5 separate regions of the Homo sapiens genome follow, and regions 1, 2, 3 and 4 are each linked to region 5. Evidence: fine-mapped expression QTL. A gene starts in region 5. Each other region holds a variant in brackets. All regions are shown on one strand. Distances are from middle to middle.

The links.
Region 1: its variant is fine-mapped to the expression of NOP56 in whole blood (TOPMed, PIP above 0.99).
Region 2: its variant is fine-mapped to the expression of NOP56 in monocytes (Quach 2016, PIP 0.95).
Region 3: its variant is fine-mapped to the expression of NOP56 in whole blood (TOPMed, PIP above 0.99).
Region 4: its variant is fine-mapped to the expression of NOP56 in monocytes (Quach 2016, PIP 0.95).

What each region holds. Positions count from the first base shown.
Region 1 is chr20:2,556,109-2,561,237 of GRCh38, reverse strand. It overlaps TMC2 (transmembrane channel like 2), which reads right to left. Exons shown (of 20, transcript NM_080751.3): 3 at 2,464-2,782. Among named protein-coding and RNA genes, the nearest start is that of TMC2, 22 kb to the right of the region's middle. RefSeq lists an enhancer at 2,489-3,199. The variant C/T (reference allele first, on the strand shown) is at 2,456.
Region 2 is chr20:2,614,026-2,619,154 of GRCh38, reverse strand. It overlaps TMC2 (transmembrane channel like 2), which reads right to left. Exons shown (of 20, transcript NM_080751.3): 15 at 2,951-3,018; 16 at 1,844-2,083. It overlaps LOC105372505 (a long non-coding RNA gene), which reads left to right. Exons shown (of 5, transcript XR_007067502.1): 4 at 570-649; 5 at 5,023-5,109. Among named protein-coding and RNA genes, the nearest start is that of NOP56, 36 kb to the left of the region's middle. The variant G/A (reference allele first, on the strand shown) is at 2,151.
Region 3 is chr20:2,621,591-2,626,719 of GRCh38, reverse strand. TMC2 (transmembrane channel like 2) reads right to left here. Exons shown (of 20, transcript NM_080751.3): 17 at 2,324-2,449. The region is part of intron 2 of LOC105372505 (a long non-coding RNA gene); the gene reads left to right. Among named protein-coding and RNA genes, the nearest start is that of NOP56, 28 kb to the left of the region's middle. The variant T/G (reference allele first, on the strand shown) is at 2,305.
Region 4 is chr20:2,671,654-2,676,782 of GRCh38, reverse strand. The region is part of intron 2 of LOC105372507 (a long non-coding RNA gene); the gene reads left to right. Among named protein-coding and RNA genes, the nearest start is that of IDH3B-DT, 9.9 kb to the right of the region's middle. The variant C/TC (reference allele first, on the strand shown) is at 2,633.
Region 5 is chr20:2,650,556-2,655,555 of GRCh38, reverse strand. It overlaps NOP56 (NOP56 ribonucleoprotein), which reads right to left and starts at 2,924. Exons shown (of 12, transcript NM_006392.4): 1 at 2,893-2,924; 2 at 2,625-2,714; 3 at 2,163-2,277; 4 at 981-1,142; 5 at 609-807; 6 at 44-231. The coding sequence starts at 2,895. It overlaps MIR1292 (microRNA 1292), which reads right to left and starts at 2,779; the gene lies at 2,714-2,779. SNORD110 (small nucleolar RNA, C/D box 110) reads right to left here and starts at 1,344; the gene lies at 1,270-1,344. SNORA51 (small nucleolar RNA, H/ACA box 51) reads right to left here and starts at 489; the gene lies at 358-489. It also overlaps LOC105372505. RefSeq lists enhancers at 1-96, 2,211-2,300 and a silencer at 2,801-3,440.

The DNA.
Region 1 (5,129 bases), 94 kb after region 5:
TGGTTTTCCTTTGATATTTGTATCTGCATTGACAACAGTAGTTTGTCTTTTTGTAGAAGAACTGTTTTGGCTTCAAAGTCAAATCAAATCAGTTTCAAAACTACATCTGTCCAAATTAAGTAAATTCACCAACTCTTATGTCAACTCAGTGGCATTAACACTGAGTTACAATTAAATGAGGAATTCAGTTGCTCAGTCACACTGGCCACATTTCAAGTGCTCAGCAGCCACATGCAGCTAGTGGCTGTCATATTGGACAGCAGGGCTGTGGAGAATTTCCAGCTGGGGAGCTCCCCATCTCCCAGATAATACTATGTGCTCAGTTGTCACAAAATCCAAGTGTCTGTGTGTGCTCCCTACAGCCTCCAGCCTATTCTGACTCCATTTTTTTTTTTTTTTTTGAGATGGAGTCTTGCTCTGTGGCCCAGGCTGGAGTGCAGTGGCGCAATCTCGGCTCACTGCAAGCTCCACCTCCTGGGTTCACGCCATTCTCCCACCTTAGCCTCCGGAGTAGCTGGCACTACAGGCACCCGCCACCACGCCTGGCTAATTTTTTGTATTTTTAGTAGAAATGGGGTTTCACCATGTTAGCCAGGATGATCTCGATCTCCTGACCTCGCGATCCACCCACCTCGGCCTCCCAAAGTGCTGGGATTACAGGCGTGAGCCACCACGCCCGGCCTCTGACTCCTTTAGTGATGAAAAATAGTGACTCTCAGCTGAGTGAGACAGCGCCCAATCGGGTAGGTAAAGGAAAGGACTAAGGAAGGGTTATGGCTGGGCAGCCTGAGTGTGTTTCATAAATGGTAGTATTAGGGTGTGGGCTTGGGTTACTGCAGGTTTTAGAGACAGGTTTGCAGCAGCCTCTGGGTGTTTTAGCTTCTGATTAACTCCTGGGGAGCAAAGAAGAAGTTTTAGGATGCCCTTGAAGGTTGAAAAGCCTAGAACACAGAGATATTTTTTTTTTTTTTGCCATACTTCATGCACACCCAATTGATGATATCTGCCTTTGAGTCTCTGCGTAGGGTGTTCCCACAGTTTGGGGTGTTGGACATTCAGTCATTGCTTATTTAGATTCCACCTGTTATTCAAAGCCTCACTGGGATGTTCACCTTCTCCATGGAGGAACCCTGATGGCCCAGCACCCGGGGAATTCAGCGCTCCATCAAGTCCTGTCTTGCATGCATATTGCTTTCTGCCTTGTCTTAGGATTACCAATGCCTATGTGTTATCTCCTCTGCCACACTGTCAGTATCTAGGCAACGGGAACTGAATGTTTTCATCTCTCTAATGCCTTGGCATGGCCCTCAGCTGAAAATGACATAAATGAGTCTGTGGCCCATTGGGATGGTACAGGCTCCCTCTAAAGTTCAGGGCACCCAGGGCCCATCAACGGTGCATTCACGTTATTTTTAAATGGCCAAGGGCACGATGCACCCTTTACCTCTTTAGTTCATGTCTGGGAGCAACCAGACAGTAGACAAAGGCTGTAACCAAGCCAGGATGGTTGGCATGGCGACAGGAAAAAAATCAGTGCCCTTGTTTAAAAGCCTCTCTGTAAAGGTGGAGAGGAAGATGGAGCACCCAACTGAGGCTGTGGGCAAAAAGGATTTGCTACAAACCACCGGGAAAGAACATCAACTCTTCACCATAATCCTAATATTCCCAACTGTTGCAAAAGAATTCCTATTCTATCACAAAGAATTCTTAAAACAATATGAGCAACGAATAAGGCATCTGTTATCCTCAATGACTGAAAAAGGGAGGCAAAGAGAGAGACACCTATTAAAATTGATAACAAAAACATGAACCCCAAATCTTCACTTTCTGATGCCATAAGCTGGCCCTGTCCACTAACCCACACGTGCTAGTTGGTGCCAATGGTAATGGAACAAAGGAGGCAAAACAAATAAAACCTCCAAGCTCCAGAATTTCAGAGCTGGTAGCATCCTTGAAGGTCTCCTGGACCAGTGCCACATTTCCAGCAGAGGAAACTGGCCCAGATCCGGAAGCCGGAACGAGGTGTGCTTAAGCCCTCAGATGGTTCCTGAGTCCGATTTTGTTCATGTCGCTCAGCTCCTCCTCTTCGAGAGCCGGGGTGAGTCACCAGCTGGAGTTCAGGGGACGCGGGATCGTGTCCCACCCGCTGCCCTGTCACCTCTCCACCCGCGCCCCGCCACCTCTCCACCCGCGCCCCGCCTCACCGGGTGCCACGAGGCGCTGGAGTGGAGAGCCCGCGGCCACTCCCCCGCGCGGACCCGCGATCTTCATCCCGGTTCTGGGATGAAGAACCCACCGCAGAGTGGGGCAGTGGTAAGGGCTGGGAGGCACGGAAGCCAGAGCGAGGGCACGGGCTGCCTCTCCCCGGGGAGGGGGGCATCAGTCCCTCACGGGGGAAGGGGAAGGGCCGCGAAGGAGCGGGAGCGCGCGGAGCGAATGCCCAGAATCGGAGCCA[C/T]AACACACCTGGGTTTCTTCTGCCGCTTCGACTTCTCCTCCCTCCTCGGAATCTCCTTTTCCCTCTTTGGGGCTGCTGTCCGCTCCTGGAAGGAGGCCCTCTCGTCGCGCTTTCTCCTGCCCTCGCAGGTCCTCTCTGCCTCGCCCCGCTCCTGCTCCCCCAGCTCTTCTCTGTGTCTCCTGCGCCCTGTTTGCTTCCTCCGGGGAGACCCCGGGCTTGGGCTGCCCCCGGCGCGCTCCTTCTGGCTTCGCTGAGCTCCGCGCCTGCCTGGGGTCCCCTCGGCTTTGAGAGCCCGCTTGCTTGAGGATCTCCTTCCCAGCCTGTCACCTGCCGGGGCGGGAAAATGGACAGTTCTGGTTCCAACGGCCTCAGGCCCAGGAAAATGTCCCCGGCCGTGAGAAATCAGACGTCCAAGATGATTCCGAGAGCTTGTGAGCTCTGCGGGGCTCAGAACAGGACACCCCAAAGTATGGCACCTTGGCATGTTGAGTATTTTAAGCTGAAGGAAACTAAGAAAACTGCAGAAGCAGGAAGGTCACTCTCTGGCCTTCTCCCTCCCGTCTCCCTTGAAGACCTCCTGTGACAGGTGTCCTGCCCTATACCCAAGGAAAGGAAAGTCACACAGAGAGGCCAAGAGGAATCGGAACAAACAGGCCTTGCTACTTCCCCCTGGTTGATTACCATGACATCATACCCTTTTGTCCTCCGATCATACTTCTGCACAACTCTCCATAAAAATACAGTTTTCCCTGTATATTTGGGTCTTCGTTTCTGAAGGCTCTTGTGTTCCCTAAAACTTACATTAAATAAAATTGGATGCGTTTATCTTGTTAATCTGTCTTTTGTTATTGGGGTCTCATCCACAAACCTTGCAATGGCTAAGGAAAGAAATCTCTTCTCCCTCTAGGTCCAAAGGCCACCTATTCTGAAAGCTTCTGGTCTGGGTGAGAATGACTGCCTTGGTGGGGGCGCACTTTCATCAGTTTTACCTCCAGGAGCCCTACCAAATTTTCACTGTGAGGTCAGGAGTTGGAGACCAGACTGGCCAAGGTGGTGAAACCCCATCTGTACTAAAAATACAAAAATTAGCTGGGCGTGGTGGTGCATGTCTGTAATTCCAGCTACTTGGAAGGCTAAGGCAAGAGAATCGCTTGAACCCGGGAGGTGGAGGTTGCAGTGAGCTGAGATCACACCAGTGCACTCCAGCCTAAGCGACAAGAGCGAGACTCCATCTGAAGAAAACAAAATAAAATAAAAATAACTGATTAATATGTTAACAGATCTAATGGATAAAATGGACAACATGCAAGAACAGATGAGTAATGTAATCAAAGAGATTGAAACTCTAAGAAACAATAAAAAAGAAATGGTAAAAACCAAAAACACTATAATAGAAGTAAAGAACACCTTTGATGGGCTCATTAGTAGACTGGTCACAGTCAAGGAAAGAGTCAGTGGGCGGAGGATATGTCAATAGAAACTTCCCAAACTGAAAGCAAAAAGAAAAGAAATTTCAGAGATGGAACAAAATATCCCCAAACTGTGGGACAATTTCAAAAGGAGTAACATATGTGTAATGGGAATGCCAGAAGGCAAACAGAGAAAGGAACAGAAGAAATATTTGAATTAATAATTGCTAAGAATTTTCTAATATTAATGACAAACACCAAACCACACATCGAGAAAGCCCAGAGAACATCAAGCAGGATAAATGCCAAAAATCTCCACCTAGGCATATCGTATTCACACTGCAGAAAACCAAAGACAAAGATAAAATCTTGAAAAAAGCTGGAGGAAAAAACTCACCTTACCTGTTGGTATAAAGATAAGAATTACACTAGATTTTGCTCCAGAAACTGTGCAAGTTAAGAGAGTAGAGTGATATATTTAAAGTGCTGACGGAAAAAAAAAAAAGGACAGAATTCTGTATCCATCAAAAGTATTCTTCAAAAGTGAGGAAGATAGACTTTCTCAGACAAACAAAAACGGAGATAATTTGTTGTCAGTAGACCTGCCTTGCAAAAAAAGTTTTATTTTATTTTCATTTAGAAACAGGGACTCTGTTGCCTAGGCTGGAGTGCAGTGGTGCCATCATAGCTCACTATAACCTTGCACTGCTGGGCTCAAGTGATCCTCCTGCCTCAGCCTCCCAGCTAATTAAAAAACAATTTTTTTTTAAAGATGGAGTATCACTATCTTGCCCAGGCTGATCTCAAACTCCTGGCCTCAAGAGATTCTCCTGCCTTAGGCTACCAAAGTGCTGGGATTATAGGCATGAGCCACCCTGTCCAGCCCCTCAAAATGTTAAAGGAGGTTCTTCAGAGGGAAGGAAAACGACATAGGTCAGAAACTTGGATTTACATAAAGGAAGAGCATTCAAGAAGCAATAAATAAAGAAAAAATAGGCCAAACCTGGTGGCTCACGCCTGTAATCCCAGCACTTTGGGAGGCTGAGGTGGGTGGATCATGAAGTCAGGAGTTCGAGACCAGCCTGGCCAACATGGTGAAACCCCGTCTCTATTAAAAATTAGCCAGGCATGATGGCACGTGCCTGTAATCCCAGCTACTGGGAAGGCTGAGGCAGGAGAATCACTTGACGCTAGGAGGTGGAGGTTGCAGTGAGACGAGATCGCACCACTGCACTCCAGCCTGGGTGACAGAGCAAGGCTCCGTC
Region 2 (5,129 bases), 36 kb after region 5:
CTCCTTCCTCCTTTGGATTCTAGGCTCTTTGGGCATTTAGGGGCTGTTTTGCATATACGACCCTTTTACGGGACAGGGTTTCTCCTCATTGGCAGGCAGGGTTGGGACTAGAGTGAGGCGGGTGAGGCCCTGAGTGCACAATTTAAGGAAGTAATGCCCTCAGGGTTGCTCATGTGCAGTGTAGGGCGTCACTCACCTGCCTCACCCTATTTCCAGCCCTGGATGAGTGATCCATGCAGAAAGGGTTCTGTGGTCAATAAGGACGGAGACACTAGCTTACAGGTGTTACCTCATTGCATGATTCTTCAGAGCCTTTAACAAAGGAGTGTGCATTGAGCATTTCTAAGTGAGATAATGGCAGACAGAAGGGGCAGTACGTCCTAAACTGCTTTAACCACAGAACCTCTCTTTACGGAGTTGGCAGAGGGCTTTGTTTTCAGAAGGTCAGGCATTTGGAAAGAGAACAGTAGATGCACATTATCTCTTGATCTACCTCCTTACATAATTATTTGTCTTTTTATACAATATCTAGTCTCCCAACTAGCTTGACTTATGTATTGAACCCCCAGGCCAATGCTCTGGAGAGCAGAGAGCTCAGTTGAGGTCTGTCAAGAGTCCACTGCAGCTGCTTCACATTTAAACGGCACGTGTAAGTGTATGGTAATTCATCCTCAGAATATCCACCATTACTTATCCTATGGTAAAGTAATCCCAGGTAGTAAGTTATCCATGTGTTAAAAGGGTAGAACTGTGCTGTCGAATATGGTAGCCATTAGCCATGTGTGGTTATTTTAATTGAAATTAAGAACGAAATCCTGTCATTTGCAGCAACATGGATGGAACAGGAAGTCATTATGTTAAGTGAAATAAGCCAGGCACAGAAAGACAAATATTGCATTTTCTTACTCACATGTGGGAGCTAAAAAAGTGGATCTCATGGAGGTAGAGAGTAGAATGAGGTGATCAGAGGTTGGGAAGGATAGAGAGGAGTGGGGATGAAGTACGGTTGGTTAACTGGTACAAATATACAGTTAGATAGAGGGAAGAAGTCCCAGTGTTCCATAGCACAGCAGGGAGATGACAGTTAACAATAATTCATTGTATAATTTCAAAGTTCCCAACACAAAGAAAAGATAAATGTTTAGGCCAGGCACGGTGGCTCACGCCTGTAATCATAACACTTTGGGAGGCCGAGGCAAGTGGATTGTTTGAGGCCAGGAGTTCAAGGCCAGCCTGGGCAACATGGCAAAACCCCGTCTCTACTAAAAATACAAAAATTAGTTGGGCATTGTGGTGCATGCCTGTAGTCCCAGCTACTTGGGAGGTGGAGGCATGAGAATCGCTTGAACCTGGCAGGCAGAGGTTGCAGTAAGCTGAGATGGCACCACTGCACTCCAGCCTGGGTGACAGAGTGAGACTCTGTCTAAAAAGAATAAAAAATAAATGTTTGATGTGATGGATATCCCAGTTACCCTGATTTGATCATTATATATTGTATACATGTATCCAAATATCACATGTACCCCCAAATATGTACAACTATCAGTTAAAAATTAATAAATAAATGAGAAAAATACATGAGAAATTAATTTTCTCAGTTCCTCATTTCAAGCACTCAACGGCCACAGGTGGCTGGTGGCTACTGAAATGAACAGCGCAGACACAGAACGACCTAACATTTCCATCCTGGCAGAAAACCCTCTTAAATGGCATCGGTGATTCACCCAAAGTTCCATGGCCTTTTACAGGCTGGCATGAAACCAGAACTGGAATTCTGGGCCGAGGCCCTCTGAGCAGACTGCCTCGGGAGGGGAGGTGCTCCCGGGCAACTGAGACTCTGCACCTGAACGGCCCGCAGTCAAAGGAGGGTGGGAGGGACATGATGGTGTAGGCCACCGGCAGGAGGCTGAGGAAGAGCACCAGCAGCAGGAGGCCCATGTAGAAGTTGTTGGATCGGGAGGCTTTGAACACGCGTTCATGGGGTACGTTGCTGCTCATCACCGCCCAGCACTGGAAGTACATGGAGGTCAGCAGGCGCAGCACATTAATGCCCACCAGGCCTGGAGCATAGAAGGAGCCCATCCTGGAATGGCAGAAACCAAACACCTGGTTGGCTGGACAGCAGGGAAGGCGAGGGAAGGGTGATAGAA[G/A]GAAATGGGACGGATGGGTTAGGGGCATGAGGCCGAGCTGCTTTCCTGGCAAGTCCCCAGGTAAGGGGCCTCCCATTTAACCAGAATATCGATCATCAAGCCAGAACCATGCAGTCCTCAGGAGAGGGAGGCACTCCGAGCATTCCTGGCTTAAGCTCTGGCCAAGATTTTACCACTGACTCGCCCCCAGGCATCTAGCAAATTATACGGTCTCCTGCCTGTTTCTCCTCGGTTTCCATAAAACAGCATTGCTGCTCAGAAGAGTATTTGAAGTCCTTCAATTGAGAGAATTGGACAGTGGCTTGCAGCGAGCCCTTGGCACCTTGAAAGTCTTTGGCTGAAGTTATGTACCTCCTTGAACTCCCTTTTCAGAAGAGGGAGTTCCATAGTTCATTTACCTTCCACCTTCTCTTCCTTCTTTTCTCCCTCCCTCCTTCTTTATTTTCCTTTCCTCCTCTTTTCCTCCTCTTCTTTACTCCTTCCTTTTCCCTTTCCTTTGTCTTTCTTCCTTCTTCCCTTTTTCTTCCCTCTTCTCCTTCTCTCCTGCCTTCCTTCCTTTTCCTTTTCTCCTCCACCAACCCCTCTCCCTTTCTCTCTACTTCTATGGTAGCACATGGGTGGGCCAGAAACTGTCCTGCTTCTCATCTAGTCCCGCTCTTGATTTTTCATGTGAAAGAGGGGAGTTCAGAGAGGCAAGAGGACTTATCTAGCCTCTTCCAACTAGTTAAGTTGCAAAGTCTGGGATTCCAGTTTTTTGACTCCTTGGATGAGGCGATCACCAGATGAAATGGATAACTCACCAGATCATTCCTTGGTTGAAGATCAAACCCAGCACATTTCCACTAATATCAAACTCAGCATATGAAGGCTAGAGAGGGAGGGAGGGAGCGAGAGAGAGAGAGAAAAAAAAAAGCACGTTTGGTGAATTCAGCCAAACCCTACTACCAACCAACTGGCCAAGCCAAGGCCATTCCATCCCAAAGAGCCTGCTCTGGTAACTAGAGAAGAACCTTAGATTTAGCATTCTATTTCTTTAATATGTTTTCAACTTTTAAACAAAAAATTTGACATTCTCAAAGCTGAAACTTTAAAAATGCCTATTTCAGTAAACAAAAAAATGACAGTTTCTATCTTTCAGGCCTTGCAGGCTGACAGCGTGTTCTTGGGAAGACCCTCGCCTCTAACAGAACATTTTATCAACGTTTTAATCAGAAACATACCCTGAAATTATAATCAAGGAGAAATCTAATAAATAATGAAATGCAAATAATTAAATGAGGAGTCAAAAGAAAAGAAAGCTTAAAAACAAACAAAAACCAAATCATCCTTCCAACTCTTCTTTCTCCTTCTCTTCTTCCTCCAGTCTGAGAGCAGTTCACGGAAAGGAAAGCACCCAGCTTGGTTCATATTTTCAGCCTACCTCATTTGCAGTTTTCGTGATTTGTCCGAATATTTGAAAGAACATAAAATCTGTGAGCACTGAGGATATGAGGGTCCTCATGAAGCATGCTAAAGCCCACATCCCAATTTGTCTTCCAGAAATGGAGATAAAGGGAAATGAGAACACAAGAAGGAGAGATGAGAAGTTAGGAAAGAGACAAAGGAAGGGCCAGCATGCATGGATGGAAGAAGGAAACATGCATACATTAAGTCCACGGGGTGAAGTCTTGGATGTTTATTTATTGAGACGGAGTCTCGCTCTGTTGCCCAGGCTGGAGTGCAGTGGCACAATCTCAGCTCACTGCAACCTCTGCCTCCTGGTTCAAGTGATTCTCCTGCCTCAGCCTCCCAAGTAGCTGGGATTACAGGTGTGCAGCACCATGCCCAGCTAATTCTTGTATTTTTAGTAGAGATGGAGTTTCACCATGCTGGCCAGGATGGTCTTGAATTCCTGACCTCAAGTGATCCACCCACCTCAGCCTCCCAAAGTGCTGGGACTACAATGTGAGCCACCGCACCCCCACCCAGAATTTAAATTTTAATATTTTAAAATGTTAAAAAAAACACATATCTACTGGGTTTCATGTCCTACTTAGACAAATCTTCCTCACTCCAAGATTCTAAGTTTGTACATGCTTTCTTTTAGAAATTTATATTTTCATTTTTTTGATGTTTAAGACTTTGATGTGCCTAAAATTAATCTAGATGAAATGAATGAGGGATATAATCCCCCACATTTTTATATAATTTATATATATTTTAATATAATCCTTTCCCCCCAGTGTGTTTGAAAGTCTCCCTTTATCATAAACTAAAGGCCCATGTAGATAGTATCTATTTCTGGACTTTCTATTCTGTTCCATTGACATGTTGGTCTATTTTCTAGTACCAGTTTTAGTTATTATAGCTTTATCATATGTTTTAGTATTATGGTAAGTCTAGTTCCTTTTATTCATCTTTTTATTTTTTCTTTATATACTTTTTGAGACAGGGCCTCACTATGTCGCCTAGGCAGGAATGCAGTGGTGTGATCAAGGGATCAAGGGATCCTCCTGCCTTAGCCTCCTGAGTAGCTGGGATTACAGGCATGCACCAGCACACCCAGCTAATTTTTTATTTTTTGTAGAGATGGGGTCTTGCTAAATTGCCCAGGCTGATCTTGAACTCCTGGACTCAAGCAATTCTCCTAATTTGGCCTCCCAAAGTGCTAGGATTACAGGTGTGAGCCACCATACCTGGCCTTATTCTTCTTTTTAAATATTTTTTCTGGATATTCTCACATGCTTATTTTTCAAATGAACTTTAGTATTATTTGGAAATCGTGGTGATCTTACAAACAAATTTAAGAACAATGACCTCTTAGTAATATTGTGTCTTTCTATCAAAGATGTCATCCTCTTTGAGCACAAAGTTCTTTCATCTTCGTTCTCAGACAAGATTATGAAGCTTTCCTGGCTGCCGAGGAGCTCAGCAGACTTGTTTAAAACTGAGACTGGTGACTGAACGAAAAAAAATGTGACAGAAACCTGTACTGGGGCC
Region 3 (5,129 bases), 29 kb after region 5:
ATTGTAGGAGTAAGGTCAGTGTCTTGGAAATAGGGCAAAACTGAAATAAATCAGCCCTGAGAAAGCCCAAAGCTAGCAATAGCAAACTATTTTCCAAAGATGGCCACAATACTATGACTCCTGTCTTACATGTGCTTCTAGAATCTTGTCATTGCCTCATCAAAAGATAAGTCTATATTTCTTTCTCTTGAACCTGGGTATCCCTTTGTGATTGCTTCAATAGAGTATGGCAGGAGTAAGTAAAGATGCCATGTATATCCACTGCATTCTCTTGGGATGCTTGCTCCTGAAACTCAGCCACCATACTATGAGGAAGCCCAAGCAGCTTGTGAGAAGGAAGTGAGGCCTCCAGTGCCAGCTGGCCAGTCATGTGAGTGACCATCTTGAAAGTGGGCCCTCCAGCCTCCAGCTGAGCTGACCCAGATGATGTTGAGTAGAGAGGAAAAGAATGATTCCTGCTAAGTCCTACCCAAATTGCAGATTCATTAATAAAATATTATTTTTCAGTTTTGGGGGTTGTTTCTTATGTAATAATAGATAGCTAAAACATCAAGTCTTGACAGGATTAAGTGATCTCCTAGTATTCCATTTGCCCTTCAGGAAAAAAAACCCATCCCTTTGGGGAAAGATAACATTATTCACAGCCTCTATAATTTTTCATCCACATGTCTGACATCTAGTAAAAATTACATGCCATGATAAAAGTAGGGCTGAGGATAAACAAGAGGAAAACAAATGACAACAAAAATACACCCAGGTGGTTCAGATATTGGAATATCAGACTGGGATTTTAAAAGTAATTATAACCACTATGTTCAAGAAAATAGAAAGCTGGAGAATTTCACCGGAGAGTTGGAATTTATAAATAACAGTCCAAAGGGAATACAACCACTTTGGAGAGCAATTCTGTAAGATCTAAAAAGATTGAAGAAACACATGCTGATGACCCACAATTCTGCTTCTAGATGTCTACCTTAGAGCAACTCTCAGAATTGTGCAAGGAGATATATACAAAATGTTGGCTGGAGCGCAGTTTGCAATAGCCGAAAAGTGGAAACAGCCTAACTATCCCTATGCAGAGGAATGGATAAACTGTGGCTTATTCATGAGATGGAACATAGTAGAGCCTTCAAACATGTGCTCATGTATCCGCATGGATAAATCCCCCAACATAATGTTGTTTGAGGAAAAGCATGTAATGTGAGTCATTCATGAAAAGGTTTAAAACTCCGGAAACAGTACTATACACACATGTGATTAAAAAGTACAAAATATGCATGGAAATAATTAAATCTAGTCTGTATAATAGTTACCTTTGGGGAGGGAGGAAGAAAGAAGGATTGAGTGGGGCTTGAAGTGCATCTGTAATGTTTTATTTCTATTACGAAGAAAGATAAACCTGAAGTAAATATTGCAAAATGTTAACATCTGTTGAATCTTGTGATCGTGTACATGGTTGTCTGTACTCATTTGTATGCTGGGAATATTTCATAATTTTTAAAAAAGCATGCCAAAATAAGATTTTTTTAAATAAAGAAAAAATGCTAACATTTTTACTAGCACATTTTTTGATGGCAACAATTCCAATCCAAGACTCTGGCTTCCTGCCTTTCTTCCCTAGTTCTTTCCTTGAGCATTTACTGTTTGCCTGCTATGCTCTAGGCATTAGGCTGGCACCGGGGATACAGAGATTTTCGAACTTGTTCTCTAATGGTTGTTGAGGGGGACAGTGATGAAGGAACCAGCTTGTTCCAGTGTATAAGCTGCTCCATCGAGTAGTGCTGTGGGCCCAGCCAGGATCAGGCCGAATCACCGTTCAGCTTCCTGATAGGCTCAGAGCCCACAGGACTTTGATATTTCTAGTGAGCATTTTAGTGGGAGTTGTTGCAGATACTGTCAGGGCTCACCCAAATTTTCAGTGTGCTCCAAAAGACTTGCACTTGCTGGTGCCCTCATCTCTGTTACCAGAAGCTTCCCTTCCCTCTTGGACCCCTCACTCACACCCCTTGAAGCCATTTTACCCATGAATGACGCTGGGAGCTGGTCTATAAATGCCTCGGATCCTTTGCCCTTAGGGAGGGCTGAGTCTGAGGCACACTGCCTCCCAGAATTCTCACAGTGATAACCATGCATTTTCCTTTCCCTTCCTTGTCTCAAGTCCTCACCCCCTCCCTAATAAAATACTTACACTTGAATCCTTGTCATGGATTCTGCTTCTGGGGAGTGCAGACTAAGAAGGCAAGATGAAAAGGACCTGCCAAGGAAGTCTCAAATTCAAGGAGAAGTTTCCGTGGGGTGGAGCCA[T/G]GGGTCCTGGCTAACTTACAACATCAGCAGGATGGCTGGGATGATCAGGCCTGGATTGGCGAGGAAAGCAAAGATCTTGCCCAGGAAGGTTGGGAAATCGTTTTCAATGGTCTCTTGGAGGACATCGTACATTCTGTTTTTCCCACTGGAAAAAGGAGAGGACACAATATAACATGCTGCCATGTGCCTGTGGCATTCACAGCTGTGTCCATGGCCCCCCTACCCAGGTCCAGGGCTGCTGCCTGCCACTGCTTTCCTGGAAGAACCAGAGCTCTGCTCCAAATGAACTGCAAGTAAAAAATTCCCCCTGAGGGGCTGCCATTCTGGCTAGGGTGACAGCTGGGTCGGCACACGGCTCACCGGCTTTCTATCCTAAGTAACTTACAACCTCTTAGCCTTCACTGGTCTTTTGTGTCTGACACCTTCCTCAGCCAGAAAAAAATGGTTTTCCTCATGTATTCTAACTGGAGAAATTGTCTGTGTTTGTAGCTACCAGGCCAACATGGAGCTTCCTTTGGGCCTGGGAAACAGTTCTGCAGAAGCTGATGTGCTGGACAACCTGAGTGTCTCTCAGAAATACCTAGAATTAACCTTCAGATTTTAAGTCTAGGAGATATTGGATCACCTAGGACAGGCTCCTGGACAGTTCACAACTGTAATTTTTATTTTCTTCAAATACCTAAGAACCATTATGCAGATTTACTTCTACAAATGCTGGCCCAGAGACTCCTGGATGCTGCTGGCTCTTGGTTGATAATTTTGGTGCCAAGAGGTGGAATACGGGGTTTGAAATTCCTGGTTTAAATCCTTGATCCCCCATTTATCACTGGTGAGACACGTGGACAATTATTCTCTCTCTCTCTGTCTTTTTTTTTTTTTTGATGGAGTCTCACTCTGACACCCAGGCTTGAGTGCAGTGGCACAATTTCAGCTCACTGCAACCTCCACCCCCGGATTCAAGCAATTCTCCTGCCTCAGCCTTTCAAGTAACTGGGATTACAGGTGAGCGCCACCACGCCTGCCTAATTTTTTGTATTTTTAGTAGAGATGGTGTTTCACCATGTTGGCCAGGCTGCTCTCAAACTTCTGACCTCAAATGATCCGCCCACCTCAGCCTCCCAAAGTGCTGGGATTACAGGCGTGAACCACTGTGCCCGGCCTGACAATTATTCTCTTTCTGCTTGTATTCATATCATGCCCTGGTTCTCCCCACGAAAGCTGTGCTGTCTGATGTGGCTATTAAAAATAAAAATTAAGATGAAGTCAAATTTGAAATTCAGTTTCTTAGTTACACATTTCAAGTGCTTAATAGTCATATGATTAGTAGCTGCTGTGTTAGAAATGCAGATATGGAATGTTTTCATCATTACAGTAAGTTCTATTGGATGTTCAATATCTGCAGAAGTTCAATACCTTTGGGCAAGGTATTGAAAATTTCTCTGCCCCAGTTTCCCCATCTGTATAATGTAGTATAATAATACTATAGTATAATATGGTATTTTAAGTATAATAATTGTATTTATCTCAGAAGATTGTTTAGAGGATATAGATGAGAATTGATATAAAACATTGAGTGTAGTGCTGTTAAGTTATAAGCGCCCTTCAAAATTTTGCAGCTAAACATTTTCTGTGTAAAGTATAGATGAGGAGTTCACCGACAATGGCTCATGGACAAATTCAGCTTGTTACCTGTTTTCTTTTTCTTTCTTTTCTTTTCTTTCTTTCTTTTTTTTTTGAGACAGAGTCTCTCTCTGTCGTCCAGGCTGGAGTGCAGTGGTGCAATCTCAGCTCACTGCAACCTCTGCCTCTGGGTTTCAAGCAATTCTCCTGTCTCAGCCTCCAGAGTTTACACACAATGCCTGGTGGATTACAGGCAGGCACCACTACGCCCGGCTAATTTTTGTATTTTTAGTAGAGACGGGGTTTCGCCATGTTGGCCAGGCTGGTCTTGAACTCCTGACCTCAGGTGATCCACCTGCTTTGGCCTCCCAAAGTACTGGGATTACAGGTGTGAGCCACTGCGCCTAGTCTGTCACCTGTTTTCATATGGTCTGTGAGCTAAGAATCATTTTTACATTTTTAAGTAGTTGAAAGCAAGTCAAAACAGGAATACTATTTTGTGACATGTAAAAATTGAAGTATAAAATTAAAATTTTAGTGTCTGTAAATAAAGTATTATTGGAACACAGCCATGCTCACTCATTTTTTGTGCTATAATGACAGGGAAGAGCAGTTGTGTCAGAGACCATTTGTGGCCATCTCATTGCTTACAACTGTTGCCCAGCACACCACAAATTGCAATGACGCAGTTATAGCATGATGGCATTTCAAGTGCCAGGCACATCACTGTATGACAATGTTTCATTTATTATTATTATTATTTTTATTTCCAGTGCATACCCGCCATGTACAAATGAGAAAAGTTAAGTTTACGTGTTAGGCTTTTATGTGACAGTTGAATGTAGATTATTTTGTCGTTGAATTAGATGGTGTATCAGATTCTAGTGCCTGCTGTTTGTCACGCTGGTGGCTTAAAACAATACAAATTTAATATCTTACAGTTCTGGAGGCCAGAAGTCTGAAAGGGATTCACTGGGTTGAAACTAACCTGGGGCAGGCATAGGATAACAGTTATAAACTTTCCAATACCAAAAAGGAGAAAATGGAAGGAAGAAAGAATCACCAACCTCAAGCAATTTTGAAATCCAATCAGCCAAGCTCCATTAGGGGTTTTATTTTTTATTTTTTGAGACAGAGTCTTGCTCGTTGCCCAGTCTGGAGTGCAGTGGCATGATTTCGGCTCACTGCAACCTCTGCCTCCCGGG
Region 4 (5,129 bases), 21 kb before region 5:
CTACTTTTTGTAGTTTTAGTAGAGATGGGGTTTCACCATGTTGGCCGGGCTGGTCTCAAACTCCTGACGTCAAGTGATCCGCCTGCCTTGGCCTCCCAAAGTACTAGGATTACAGGTGTGAGTCACTGCGCCTGGCCTGAAACAGTTTTTGATTTTGTGCTCAGTCCACGATGGTGAATGTGTTGTTATGTCTTGTTCGATGACGGATCTAGGTGGTGATGGTGGTGGTATGGGCAGTGAAGTCTGGATCAGCAGCTTGACTACAGTTTGTCTCATTAGAGAAGGGCCCTTACCATGGGCATCTCTGTGAGTAACTTGGGCATCTGATTGGCAGCTGAAATTATTTCCACAATATGCAGCTGCAATAGGGAATGTCTTTAATCTTCCAGTCTTGTGGGCAAGATAGCTAGGCCATTGGCAACCACACAAAAGGCAGTAAAAATGTAGAAGGGTTCATCACGGGGAGTATTGGCCAGAACTATCAGCACTCCCTTGAGCTCTGTCCATTGAGTGGAGCAGTCATGCTTGCTTTTTTTAAAAAATTATTATTTATTATTATTTTTTTAAATTTGAGATGGAGTCTCGCTCTGTTGCCTAGACTGGAGTGCAATGGCGCGATCTCGGCTCACTGCAACCTCCGCCTCCTGAGTTCAAGCAATTCTCTTCCCCTAGCCTCCCAAGTAGCTGGGATTACAGATGCACGCCACCACGCCCGGCTAATTTTTGTATTTTTAGTAGAGACGGGGTTTCACCACGTTGACCAGGCTGATCTGGAACTCCTGACCTCAAGTGATCCACCCGCCTCGGCCTCCCAAAGTGCTGGGATTACAGGCGTGAGCCACCACGCCCAGCCCATGCCTGTTTTTGGTTCTGCATAGCTGGTGCTGAGGTTGAACGTGGACACTATAAGGTGTCAGCCTAGCCAAACCATCATTGTACCAGGCCAGGTGCCTAGGGAACCCTCTGTGACTTGAGGGCCCCATTGAGCCAGCAGCTTTGCTTCAAGTGGTGAAGTTAGGAAAAGATTTCCCCTGAAGGGATTTTTGCTGCCACTTTTTCATGTAAAACCCAGCTAATATTAGGACCAGGCCAGCTGTGTTACTGAATACAGTATTTCCATTGGATTAATAATGCCTTTTGTGCCCCTCCCTTAGTAGCCACCAAATCCAAGTTGACCCATCCCAAAATGGGAGTGTCAGTTTGGAGAGTCACAGGAACTTTTTGGGTCAGTAACAAGTTAGTGGGCACCTTTTTAAAAAGGGGATGGGGGCCTGGCATGGTGTTTCATGCCTGTAATCCCAGCACTTTGAGAGGCCGAGGAGGGCAGGTCGCTTGAGGTCAGGAGTTCAAGATCAGCCTGGCCAACATGGTGAAACTCTGTCTCTACTTAAAAACAACCACCAAACAAAAAAGCCAGGTGTGGTTGCGCATGCCTGTAGTCCCAGTTACTCGGGAAGCTGAGGCAGGAGAATAGCTTGAACCTGGGAGGTGGAGGTTGCAGTGAGCTGAGATCATGCCACTGCACTCCAGCCTGGCAGCCGGGGAGACAGAGCAAGACTCTGTCTTAATAAAATAAAGTAAAATAAAATAAAATAAAATAAAATAAAATAAAATAAAATAAAAAAGAGGGGATGGGGCCGGATGTGGTGGCTCAGGCCTGTAGTCCCAGGGCTTTGGGATTATGGAGGGAGGATCACTTGAAGCCAGGAGTTCAAGACCAGCCTTGGGAACAAAGCAAGATCTCATCTCTACAAAAATGTATTTTTAAAATTAGCTGGCATGGTACGTGGTGGCAGGCACCAAGCTACTCAGGAGGCTGAGTGGGGAGGATTGCTTGAGCCCAGGAGTTCCAGGCTGCAATGAGCTGTGATTGTGCCACTGCATTCCAGCCTGGGCGACAGAGAGAGACTGTCTCAAACAAAAAAGGGGGATGGGGGAGGGATGGGGCCAGGTGTGGTGGGATGGAAGGATCACCTGAGGGCAAGGAGTTTAAGACCAGCCTGAGAGACCACGTCTATGAAAAATTTTGTAAAATTAGCCGGGCATGGTAGCTCACAGTTGTCGTTCCAGCTGCTCAGGACAGTGAGGTGAGAGGATGGCTTGAGCCCAGGAATTCAAGACTGCAGGGGGCTCTGATGGTGTCACTGCACTCTAGCCTGGGTGACAGATCAGCAACCACTCTCTAAACAATTTTTTTTTTTTTAGGCCGAGTCTCGCTGTCACCCAGGCTGGAACGCAGTGACGTGATCTCAGCTCACCACAACCTCCGCCTCCTGGGCTCAAGCAATTCTCCTATCTCAGCCTCCGGAGTAGCTGAGACTACAGGCGCATGCCATCATGCCCGGCTAATTTTTGTATTTTTAGTAGAGACAGGGTTTCACCATATTGGTCAGGCTGGTCTTGAACTCCTGACCTCAGGTGAACCACCTGCCTCGGCCTCCCAAAGTGCTGGGATTACAGGCGTGAGCCACTGCACCTGGCCTCTAAACAATTTTTTTAAAGCTATGTGCTTGGTGAGTGTGTCAGGCAGGTGGTGCTATTGTGCTTGAGAACAGCCTCTGAGTAATCTGGCCACCTTTGAGACTAATTTTCAGATTTCCCTTTTCCTTCCTGATTTTTTTTTTTTTTTTTT[C/TC]AGATGGAGTCTTGCTCTGTCGCCCAGGCTGGAATGCAGTGGCACGATCTCGGCTCACTACAACCTCTTCCTCCTGGGTTGAAGCGATTCTTCTACCTCAGCCTCCTGAGTAGCTGGGATCACAGGCGCCCGCCACCACGGCCGGCTACTTTTTGTATTTTTAGTAGAGACCAGGTTTCACCATGTTGGCCAGGCTGGTCTCAAACACCTGACCTCGTCATCTCCCAGCCTCAGCCTCCCAAAATGCTGGGATTACAGGCATGAGCCACTGCACCTGGCCTCCCTCTTGAAAGTCTAAACTGTTTCTCCTGGACCATCTAAGAGGGTTCAGAAACCACCTTTCCACATGTGGCAGTCTCTGAAAGGGCGAATCCCATCTGACACTTATGGGCATTGGCAGTACAGGCCGGTATGAGCATCAATACCAGTAATACATTTGCAGTGAAAGCCACTGAATTGGCCCAAGGGCCCCACATGGAGCGTTACTTAATTTGCCTTCTTCCACTGCAAACTTTGCTCAAAGCCTATCAGTTGAACTTGGGGGATTTTTTACCTTCTGGGAAAACAAACCAAGGTGTTTAGTGTGTGCACATCAGGAGCAAAAGCAACAGCTGCCGGGAGCTCAGGCTAGCTCACAGGGTGCAGCTAGGAGGCTTTTATTTCTCCTTGGCCCCTGGCTTCAGGGTTGGCATTGCTGCTGCTTCCTCTGTGTAGCTCCAGTGTCCATCCAGAGAGTTCCCAAGCCCCGAGGCCCCTTTCATTTTGTCCCCAGTCCACACTGCAGTCCTGGGGTGGTGCCTTCAGCCATCTCTGCACCCATCCACGGAACTAGGTAAGATGGTGAATTGGGCACTTGGGCCCAACAGAGATATACAAGTTTTGAGGACTTTGCCTCCGTGAAGTTCCCCAGCATACTCAACTTTTTCATTACAACAGCTGAGCCAGACACGGTGGCTCACGCCTGTAATCCCAGCACTTTGGGAGGCCAAGGCAGGTGGATCGCTGGAGCCCAGGAGTTCAAGACCAGCCTGAGCAACATGGCGAAACCCCGGCTCTACAAAAAATAAGCCAGGTGTGGTGGTGTGCACCTGTGGTTCCAGCTATTAGCGAGGCTGAAGTGGGAGGATCACCTGAGCTCAAAAGGTCGAGGCTGCAATGAGCCGTGATCATGCCACTGCACTCCAGCCTGGGTGACAGAGCAAGACCCTATCTCAATAAATAAATTAATAAATTAAATAAAAGCAGCCGGAGGTGGAGTAGAGCGGGAATAGAGGGATTGGGGAACACAGGGGAGAGAGCGAGCCTGTGCCAGTGAGCAAGGCTTCCAGTGGCCACCTGTGGGGCTTATCCAAATACCTTGTAGTGTTTTGGGGTCACTGTGAAGCTCTGTATCAAACATGATGGCTGATACCATGTATTTCAGCTTTGGGGATTCTTTGACTCAGCAGCCACATCCATGTTGCCTTTTGAGTGCAGCTGTGGGGCTTGCTGCCCCCTTGTCATAACATCCCTTCCTCCTCCTGAGCAAGAAACGAAGCACCGTTTGAGTGGCTTGTTTCAACCCTACCTCTCGTTGCTTAAACTCATTAAGGTAGGACAGTGTGAGCTCCTTATCCTATCCACCCTACCCCTGCCACCCACCATTTGGGTGAGAGGATCCACTAACATATGCCAAGGAGTCTTTTCATATCCCCTAATCTGGTCCATAAGGTCCTTATCCTTCCTCTTCCAGAAAGTCATGTTTATCAGCAGCCTGTCCTCATTGCCAAAACTGTCAGGGCCTGGCATTTGAATTTTCCCTGCTGATGTGTGAATAATTCGCCTCTTACTGTTTCATGCATGCTGGCAAAGATGAGACTCCCGAGTCAGAGACAAAGGACTTTATTAAGGCACAGCAAGCAGCCTAGGCAGCATGTTTATATTGACTCCCTCGTCCCCCTGTCCCCTTGTCCTCCAGGGGGCAATGTGGAGGGCCCTGGTGGATGCTGTGGGTTTGTGTGGCATCTAGGGGAACACTGAGCTTGGGGAACCCACCCCTTTCACAGCAGGGAATAAGCAAGCCTGCTCTTTAGGAAGATAGTTCCTCATTCCTCAAGGTTGCTCCCTGCAAACACAAGCAATAATATACTTTAAGAATAAATACAGACTGGACGTGATGGCTCATGACTGTAATCCTAGCACTTTGGGAGGCTGAGGTGGGTGGATCACTTGAGGTCAGGAGTTCAAGACCAGCCTGGCCAACATGGTGAAACTTCATCTCTACTAAAAATACAAAAATTAGCCAGGTGTGGTGGTGCATGCCCATAATCCCAGCTACTTGGGAGGCTGAGGCAGGAGAATTGCTTGAACCTGGGAGGCAGAGGTTGCAGTGAGCTGAGATCGTGCCACTGCACTCCAGCCTGGGCGACAGAGTGAGACTCTGTCTCAAAAGAAAAAAAAAAGCAGAAATGCATAATATGATGTCTCGTAGTAACTGGTATAATTGAGAAAATAAAGC
Region 5 (5,000 bases):
TAGAGCCCCATACCTTATGCAGGTTGCCAGGCTCTGCACTGACCCATGGAGGACCGTGAGGCATCCAGAATAGCCTTAGCCTTGGCCCCATCCATTGTCAGCTCCTCCAGCTTCTCCAGCTTGTCCTCATTCAGTTCCCTTCGGTTTCCAATAAACTGGGCAAGACGGCAGTATGTGGCATTGTCGTTGATGATCTTCACCAGCTCCGGAAAGTGATACCCGTACCACTCCCTGCAAAGAGCCACAGTCACTCCCTGGCCCAGCTGCTTCATCAAAAACCATAGAGCTACAGCCTTGCCTTCTCCACACCTACTCTGCCTGGAGGAAATGGGACAAAGATCCAAATCTTCCTCAATTCTATGTTCCCCCATTCACAATACAGACCAGGCACAGGGCCTGAGCTGAGGTGTATATGGGGTAGGTTTACTCTACCTCCTCTTTCTATACAGTCAGTGTAAGAACACAGCCTGTGGTAAGCACCAGGAGGCCTACACCCAGCCCCAGCCCACATGGTTCTACCCACAGGATGGTCAGTCCTCATCAAGACTCAAAATTAACTGAACTACAGACCAAAGGCTCCAGTATTATGGGTGGCCCCTGCACTTTACCTGACACGCATAGAGAAGGTATTGATGTCCTTATCCAGCTGGTCCAGGAGGCTAATGGACTGGATGATCATATTGTCCACCCGGTTCACATTAAACTTAACTTTGGCACGGGAATAGCTGTGTCCCAGCCCCAGCTGTGCTTTACAAGCTGACAGATCGGTCAGACCCTTCACCAGATTGTGGAAGTGCAGACGAACTCCTAAGAAGAGGGCAAGACGGTGAGCAACAAGGGGCTCTGAGCTAGCTCCCGCACCCACGGGCACCAGCCCAGCCTGAAGGCCTTCCCAGAAATCACAACAAGCAACCAAGTTTCCAGAACCTCCTCCCCCAAAATGTCCAGGATAACAGGAATATAACAGATGATGGTCTCACCTCGCAGGATCTCAGCTATGACTCCTCCAGTCTGGCAGTTGTACCCTAACTCCTCCTGTATTGCGGCACCAATCTTGGGATCCCCAACTCCCAAGAGTACTTTCTTCTTTTTGGACGGCAGGTGGGTCTCCAAGAGCAGGCGGAGGTCCTCATGAACAACCCCTCAGGGGAAAGAACACAGTTCCCACTAACAGGCTGAAGGACGATCAACTCTAACATCCCTCAGCTGACTACCCTGGTCCCACCGAGCACGCTGGGATGGCATACCTAGATCCCTCCCCATCAGGCATTGCTCAGAGACATGGAGACATCAGTGATTGCACTCAGGGGATTGACAGATTTGATTCGCAAGTCATCACTGCAAAGCCTGGCCCAGCCATGGGAACAACTGCATTCAGGTCTGATAGCACAAGTGGGCAATAAATAATAGCTTGTAACACACCCTCGAGTATTTCGTAGAATTTGCCTTCTGGAACCAAACCTTTTTTTCTCAGCCTGTGTTTACCCAACTGCCCTTTCCAATCGAACAGAAAGCAGAGAACCAGACACTTGATTGTGTTTAGGCAAAACCTCAGGCACAAGTAGGTGTTAAGCCGACCCCCTTTAAGAAACCCCCCTTTGTCGGCCGGGCACCGTCGCTCGCGCCTGCAACCTCAGCACCTTGGGAGGTCGAGGCGGGCGGATCACGAGGTCAGGAGATGGAGACTAGCCTGGCCAACATGGTGAAACCCCGTCTCTACCAAAAATACAAAATTAGCCGGGTGTGGTGGCTGGCACAGGCCTGTAATCCCAGTTACTCGGGAGGCTGAGGCAGGAGAATCGCCTGAACCAGGGAGGCAGAGGTTGCAGTGAGCCCAGATCTTGCCACTGCACTCCAGCCTGGGGGACAGACTCCATCTCAAAAAAAATAAAAATAAAAAATAGTTTGTCACTACAGTGCCCACAAGGAAACGTTAACACACATTCCACATCGTCTGCTTAAACAGTTTGGTCTAGCACAGTTCCCAGACCTTGAGCTCTGTGAAGACAATTATTTCAAATTACACATTGTATGGCTCAAATACTGCCTCACGCCTATCAGACTCAGAGCCAGCCAAGGACGGCAAATACTATCACAAGCTGCCCGAGAGGATACCGAAAGGAACCACATCTCTCTGTGACACTTGGCGGTGGCCGACTTACCTTCAGACACGGCGTTGGCATTTTCCAAGGCAACCTGGGATGAGGCAAAGGGACAAAAGGCCACCAGACGAACGATGCTGTGGAATTTGCCCAGGTTGAGCACAGACTCCTCCACCTGGGGGGAGAAAGAGGCTAAGTGGTTTCCTTCCCTCCCTCCTGCCTCTGCGGCGCAGTCAAGCAGCGGTTCTCAGCCTTGGAAGCTCTTAAAATATGCTGATACCTGGGCCCCACATCCCAGCTTCTGCTTTAATCGTTCGGGGGCGGCGTCCGGGAGGCTTATTTCTAATTGCTAGAGCGATTCTACCCATGGGTCAAGGTAAAGACCCCCGGATCTAGAGCTTTCCAGGCCCGTCCCCCCGCCCCGAACCGCTCGGCCGGCCACGTGGGAGCGCGCTGTGCATGCTGGGACCCGCGCGATGAGGGTCTGCGGGGCCGCCAAAGGAGCCCACGGATCTCACCCACCTGCGGCTGCAGCAGACTGATCTCCTCCACTTCCTTCAGCGCCAGCAGCGCGTAGCCGACCGCGTGCTCAAACAGCACGTGCAACAGCACCTGGAACGGGAGCCGGGGCGCGAGCGTCAACGCAACCTCAGCGTCTGCCGGAACCCGTTCCCAGGGCAGGCGCAGGCGCAGGCGCAGGCCCAGGCCCAGGCCCAGGCCCTGTCTGCGGCCCGAACGCAGGCCGAAACCCCCACCGTCGCGTCGCCCGCGCCCCGCAACCACTCCTCACCATGGCGCCAGCTCCCGGGTTCGGCTCGCAATGCGGCTAGCGCGCTCCGGCGCGCGGAACCAGGCTCCAGAGGCCACGCCCCCGCCCCCCCGACCAATCGGAGGCCGGGGACGACACCATCTCCGGCCTTTGGAGGGGCCGCCCAGGGTGGTATCGCCCGGAGCGCGGGCTGGGTGGTGCCGAGCGCGGGCGAGCGGGCCTTTTCCGGCCTCTGCAGCTGCGCGGGCGGGCGTGGTTGCCGGGGACGCGCGGCCCCCGGTCGGGCACTGCAGGCGGCGAAACGACTTGGGAAGGCCCTTTCGGGGTAATAGTCCGGTTCCTGATGTTCTTGTCATATGAGTTACGGGCAGCAGAGCTGGGTGAAGTCGGGGCGGGAGGTCCGCGTGGGGCGCGGCGTCCATCCCAGACAGAGACCGCTGCCTAGCCGGCTTCCCGCTTCGTCCGTGGCCTCGGGCCCCAGACCCTGCGCCCCACGTCCCCGGGACCCAGGCGTTCCCGTCCCCTACTCGGGGACGAGCCTCCCCGGCGCCGGGTGGGCGGTGCATCCTTTCCTCCCACCCGTAACGGGAGCGGTGCCTGGCGCGCTCTGGCGCAGACCCTGCTGGGAATGTAGCTCGCGCAGTTTTCTTCGTACTATTAATTTATTTCTTTTTTTTGTTTTTGGTTTTTTTTTTTTAAATGACTGTAGCAGGCAGTAACGTGCGAAAGAAAGACGCTCCAGCGTCTTCCTAGGCCAGTTTCTTGTTGCTGTGCTGCACGGGACCCAGCTCCTTTTGCTGGGCCACGTGTTGCTCCTCCGCTTGGGCGGCCCTGAATTCTGGGCGCTGGTGATCGCTGAGTGAATCGCAGCTGCTTCCCTGTCCTTGAGGGCGTCTTTTGGGCACTCAGGCGACTCTTTAGAAATGAGTTTTGCTTTAATAATTAATATTAACGTTATAAATCCAAAACCTAGTTATACTTAAGTAGCGTATCCCCTGGTATGTTTTAAAGAGTCATTCGAAGGGGATTTTTAAAAATAATGTATAGCTATAAACTGCATTTATACATTTAATTGTTATTTTGTTAAGCGATTGAGTTACTTGACAAAATCCAAGTACATAGTTCACTCACAAATCTAATATGTCAAACCTAAATGTGGTTGGTAAATCTTACTCTCATAATTTCAATATGGTTTACAGATGTGGTTGAATTCTGTTACACATGTCTACTTACGAGTCAGAATCGTTATTCCATTTAATATTTTAAAATGGAATTGCCAAGTTAATCCATACATTAGCATGTTAAATTATTTTAACCGTCGTGAATACATCAAAATAGACGATTCCAAAATGTAATGGAAAATACTAATGCTAATACTTCAATTTACTTCATTATTTCTGCCCTTAATCCTGAATCTTCCTGGAGTTACAGGTGCTTATCCACTAAACCAGGGGTTTTCAAGCAAGAAGTCAGAATGCATTAATGGACAGCATTTAAAAAAATAGGATTGGGTGGGCTATAATCCAGCACTTTAGGAGGCCGAGGCAGGCGGATCACTTAAGATCAGGAGTTCGAGACCAGCCTGGCCAACATGGTGAAACCCCGTCTCTACCAAAAAATAAAAAAATTAGCTGGACGTGGTGGAGCATGTCTGTAATCCCAGCTACTCGGGAGGCTGAGGAAGGAGAATCGCTTGAACCCGGGAGGCAGAGGCTGCACTCTAGCCTGGGCAACAGAGCAAGGCTCTGTCAAAAAAAAAAAAAAAAAAAAAAAAAAGAAAAAGGATTAAAGCGAATAGAAATAAGAGTGTGTTGCTTAGAGTAAGGTGCTGTTCATTGTAAAACTTTTGTCTCAGCTCTACATACATATATAGAAATATGTACACAAATATTTTTCATATATACATATATATGTAACTATATGAACACACTTTTGTGTGTTAAATCAGAATATAAAAAACCTGAGGGTCAATCAATGAGCCAAAAGGTAACCAGTCGTACTCTGGAAAAATTTGGGTCCTCTGGTTACAAAGGAGCTGTCATGAAGTAGTTTGCTGACTTACAGAGATGGCTGAAGAAAAGTGCTTCTGCTGGTGAGATAACCAATGCTTGTGATCAGATATGGATGTG